Regions from separate parts of the Homo sapiens genome. Here region 2 is linked to region 1. The links come from fine-mapping of genetic effects on gene expression. Tissue or cell type: whole blood. Region 1 holds a variant in brackets; the other region holds the start of a gene. All regions are shown on one strand. Distances are from middle to middle.

Region 1 (2,684 bases):
AGCCTCACCAGCCATCTCTCTCCAGAGTGATTCATCTCTGATTGCAAACGCTGAGGAGCAAACCCACTTCTAGTTAAATTATCGTATGTGTTAAATCCATCTGAGCAAATGCTACCATTACACCACCCAACAGAGTTACAGAAATGCTTCCTGAAACAGGTAAGAACTGCCCTCAGATGGACAAGATGAACACACATAGAGAACCAAGAACCAAATGATTCAACCCAATGGTTTCACTAACTAGCATTGTTCGTAGCTCGCAGGATGGCTCCTTGAGGGATCAGCAGCAGTTTTCCTTTTCCTGAAGGGTTCTTGCTGTTTGTAGTTAGGTAGAGTTTAGTGCCAGGAGGCAAATTTGCCAAGTTGGCCAAATTAGTGGCTGGTAGCTGCAACGTTGCCATTACTAAAATGGTAAAGGAGAAAAAATTGTAAGATAAATTGAAACTAAGGGCAACACTCTAAAATTAAAATACAAGGCAATAAATTCTTATTTTAGAACACTAACAAGCAATAAATTCAAAGTTTGTTTCCCAGATGCACAATGCTTTAAAGACTGATATTCTTAAATATCTTGCTAATTAAAAAATAATTTATAGACCAGAAGAGCCTGCCAGAGGCTCTTTATATCTGTATATAATAGGATGATCGTACGTCCTGGTTCTGCCCAGAACAGTTCTAGGTTACACCTGTCCCACTATAATTATTAATAATGACTCTTTTTACTCTCCAAAGTACTGTGGTTTGGACGATTAATGAAATAATCACCCTGTCTATGGAGGATTACATATTTTCCCCCATTTGTTTAAAGTCAAAGTTAGGGCAAATGTGTGCTCCTAACTGGCAAGTACCATTGGCCCTCTGTATCTGTGGATTTCACATCCATGGATGTAACCTACCTCAGATAAAAAATATCCATATATTTGGCAGACAAAAGGATGAGTACATCTGTACTGAACATGTACAGACTTTTTTCTTGTCATTATTCCTTAAACAACACAGTGTAACAACTATTTACATAGCATATACATTGTTATTACATTGTTATTTACATTGTTATTAGGTATTAAGATAACCTAGAGATGATATAAAGTAAAGTACATCAGAGGATGTACATAGGTTATACGTAAACAGTACAGCATTTTACACAGGGGACTGTGGATTAGCATCTGTGGATTTTGCTATCTGCAGCAGGGGGTCCTGGAACCAATCCCCCACAGTACTGAGAAATGATTTGTTCGTGTGTGTGTGTGTATGTG[G/T]GTGTGTGTGTGTGTGTGTGTAAATTTAAAGCTAAATACTCACAGACCTTTATGTAAAATGTCCCATAAAAAAGAACAAACATTTCAATACACTTCTTACAGCATCAACCTAACTAGGCTTTCCTAGACCAGATCAAATAGCAAATAAAATCACTAGCAAAGGAAATTTTGGACAGAGCTTCTGCTGAAAGGGCTCCCAGTGATGATCCGTTTTACCTGAACCCTGGGATCCACTCTTCTGAGGACCAGCGGCAGTAACCTGGGCCTTGGTTAAGGTCTGCACTGGCTGAGCAACAATGGTTCCTCCACCTCCACTCACAATTGCTTTGGCAACTCCTTGGGTTACAACTTGCTTTGGCCCAACTGCTTTGGAGACAGAAGAGCTGGCCTTGGCTACCAGGATCTGGCCACCACTGATCGCCACAGCCTGCTTCACTGTTGAAGGTAAAGCAGACCCAACTGGTACCCCGACAACCTGTTCAAAACAGAGCAGAGTCCAACGGTGCTTCGAGAGCTCTTAGAACAGCAGTCACCGTTTTGGCAGAGAGCAAAACAAAGGCCTGCACATAATACATGCAGCCTAATTCAGTCATCTAGGAAAGCTACCTACACAGGTGTGAACGGCAACTGTATTTCTTACACTTGGGTATTACAATAATAGAAGCTTAACAATTGTTGTCTTGCCTCAGCTACTTTTTATAATTTACTTTAATAGAAAATTTGGGAAATTCAGAAGTATAAAGAAAAAAGTTTGGCCGGGCGTGGTGGCTCATGCCTGTAATCCCAGCACTTTGGGAGGCCAAGGCAGGAGGAGCATTTGTGGTCAGGAGTTCGAGACCAGCCTGGCCAACATGGTGAAATCCAATCTCTACTAAAAATACAAAAATTAGCTGGGCATGGTGGCACACACCTGTAGTCCCAGCTACTCTGGAGGCTGAGGTAGGAGAATCCCCTGAACCTAGGATGTGGAGGTTGCAGTGAGCCAAGATCATGCCACTGCACTCCAGCCTGGGTGACAGAGTGAGACTCTGTCTAAAAAAAAAAAAAAAAAAAAAAAAAAATTAGCCAGTACAGTGGCACACATCTGTAGTCCCAGCTATTCAGGAGGCTGAGGCAGGGGAGGATCCCTTGAGCCTAGGAGTTCAAGGCTGCACTGAGCCGTGATCACACCACTGCCCTCCAGCCTGGGTGACAGAGCAAGACCCTAAGAAAAGAAAAAAAAAAAAAAAAAAAAAAGGCAAGAATAATATTTAACTATTAAAAAAAAAAAAGACCCCAGTACCCAAATAATGAAAATTAGAAGTATCTAGTTCCAAAAGTAAAATGAATTCTTTTAAGAAAATACTCAGGAGTGTTTTTAAAACAAAGTCAACAGTAGGATGTTAAATTAAACACTGAATGAATGGCAAACTGGAGCAGTGTTTCCCA
Region 2 (2,684 bases), 75 kb after region 1:
TTCTACCTTAAAACATTTAAAAATCTGTTTATACTTCCCCATCTCCCTGCCACGGGCCTAGTCCAAGCTACTGCAAAGAGCACAGTAACTGACCTCGTAGGTTCCTCCCCAGCCCTCTTCCTCTACATAGCAGTCGGATCATGCTACTCGCCTTCTCAAAACCTTCAAAGGCTTCCCGGGAAAAACTAAACTCCTTATCAGGGCATCATCTGCCCTATCTTTTAAAGAGTATACACAAACAGGAATATACATCCAAGGGTAGTATCTCTAGATCGTAAAACTGCGGGCATTTTTCTCTGGCTTTGCTTGTATTTTTAAATTTTTCTACGCTGAATACCCTCTACTCATTAAGAAAGGGGAAATGATATTGCTGAATTCTATATAATATTATACCGCATTTTTTACATGTGAGCGAGAAAAGGGAATGGAAAACGTGGGTCAACTCTGTAACTGCTGAATGCTTAGATGAAAATACTAGCCAACATCAAACTAAAAAAAAATGATGTGTCAGGCCTGTAAGATTGCTGATGGCATTTCTCTTCCTCTGGTTTCTATTTCTTAACATAATCACATTCATGATGGAGAAAACCTCATTGTCTTCTGCAGTCTGGCCACAGCCCTTCAAGCCAGCCTTTCCTGCAGGAGTCCTCACTTTCCGAGGCTTCCACTCCGCCCCGCACTGCCCGCAGCTCCGGCGCGTTGGCCCCGGCCCCATCCCTGGACCCCCAAAGCCTCTCTGACCCCTCCCCTCCATCCCAGGGAGGCCCGGTGGGGATGGCGACAGGTTGGAGGGGCATTCCAGGATCCTTTCGGTAAACCCACGACTTTCTGGTGCTGGGGCCAAATCTTGCCTCCAAGGCCAAGAGCTTAACATCCTAAAAGCTCCGGCCGCTGTGGCTCGGGGTCCCGTATCCCCTCAGCGCAGCGCCCCGCTGAAGAGGAAGCCCCCAACTCACGTTCCAATTCCAGGCTCCCGCTTCTGCGGCTCCCCGGCCCGCACCTGGGATCCTCCCTGCCCTCCCCTCGGCCCCGGGGCCTCACCGGGTCCCGCTGCCGCGCTGCCTGCCGATGGGGGAGGGGCGCGCACGTGCCCGCGCCGCCCCCGCCCAAACAATGCCCCGGAGAGCGGGGCGCGCTCCCGGCCGGTCCCTTCCTGCGCCCGCCAACACTCACCCTTTCTCCGGGTCTCCGGCTGCAGCGCGGGCCCCGCCGGCCGCCGCGAGAGAGCACGGCGAGGTGAGAGAGCGGGCGAAGCCCCGCGGAGCTGCCCCGCCACAAGGCCCCAGCGACCCCCGCAACCTGCGGAAGCACACGGCGCGGTGGAGCCCGCCCGGCGCGTTCCGCCCCGCACGTCAGCAGCTGGGCGCGTCGGGGCGCGCGCGGCGGCGCGCGCGGCCTCGGGGCGGAGCTCCCAGGGATGAGGGCGGGGCGGGGCGGGGCGGGGCTGGTCCGGGCTGGGACCCCGGCCCGCGAGGGCACTTCCTGGGCAGTGTGGGCGTCGATTCTTGCAAAGGCACAGTCGTCCATCACTTTCCTGCCCCAGAAGATGGCGAATTTCAACCCCAAGTTTGACAGAATATTCATTCTGCCGGCGTGTATGAGCTTCCCTATTAATCACAATAGTGACTATGATGTTTGTGTGTGCCATCTTTGTGCCAACCCATGTGCTAAGTGCTGGGTATACAAAATAACAGTAGTTATTTCTAGCCCATTTTACAGATGAAGAAACTGAGGCAGGGAAGGCTTGAGACTTATCTCAGTCACACTAGCTAGTGACAATCCAAGTCCAGTTTTCCACCTAAATATCACTTGAGGCCAACATTCTCTTTCGTTGTAACTCTACCACCCTACCCAAGACCCTGTAATCTCTCTGCCCAAGACTATGAATAGCCTCCCAACTGGTCTTGGGGAACTTCTGTTCCCCTTCAATCCCTTCTCACTGTATAACGATTTACTACTGGAGCTGAGTGGTGGGTTTAGGAAGTTCACTTTTTTTTTTATACTTTACATACATGTTACCAAATTTTTAATGTATTTAATGTTTTTATCAACGCATAATAAATATAAGTGGTGTTTTGTTTTTTGTGTTTTTTTTTTTTTTTGAGATAGAGTCTCCCTCTGTTGCCAGGCTGGAGTGCAGTGGCATGATCTTGGCTCACTGCAGCCTCCGCCTCCCGGGTTCAAGCGATTCTCCTGCCTCAGCCTCCCAAGTAGCTGGGATTACAAGGCGCGCGCCACCACGCCTGGCTGATTTTTGTATTTTTAGTAGAGACAGGGTTTCACCATGTTGGCCAGGCTGCTCTCGAACTCCTGACCTTAGGTGATCCACCCGCCTCAGCCTCCCAAAGTGCTGGGATTACAGGCGTGAACCACCACCCCCAGGCTAATTTTGGTTTTTTTAGACAGGTCTCACTATCACCACAGCTAGTCTCACACTTCCGGGCTCGAGAGATCCTCCTGGCTGGGCACGGTGGCTCATGCCTGTAATCCCAGCACTTTGGGAGGCTGAGGCGGGCGGATCACCTGAGGTCAGGAGTTCAAGACCAACCTGGCCAACATGGTGAAACCCCGTCTCTACTAAAAATACAAAAATTAGCCAGGTGTATTTGGGCATGCCTGTAATCCTAACTACTTGGGAAGCTGAGGCAGGACAGTCACTTGAACTCGGGAGGTGGAGGTTGCAG

What was found. PIP is the estimated chance that this variant, and not a neighbour inherited with it, causes the effect.
Region 2: YEATS2 starts here. The variant in region 1 is fine-mapped to the expression of YEATS2 in whole blood (TOPMed, PIP above 0.99).

Annotation. Positions count from the first base shown.
Region 1 is chr3:183,771,352-183,774,035 of GRCh38, reverse strand. It overlaps YEATS2 (YEATS domain containing 2), which reads right to left. Exons shown (of 31, transcript NM_018023.5): 16 at 1,473-1,731; 17 at 242-403. Among named protein-coding and RNA genes, the nearest start is that of YEATS2-AS1, 38 kb to the left of the region's middle. The variant G/T (reference allele first, on the strand shown) is at 1,257.
Region 2 is chr3:183,696,483-183,699,166 of GRCh38, reverse strand. It overlaps YEATS2 (YEATS domain containing 2), which reads right to left and starts at 1,370. Exons shown (of 31, transcript NM_018023.5): 1 at 1,174-1,370. RefSeq lists a silencer at 996-1,465.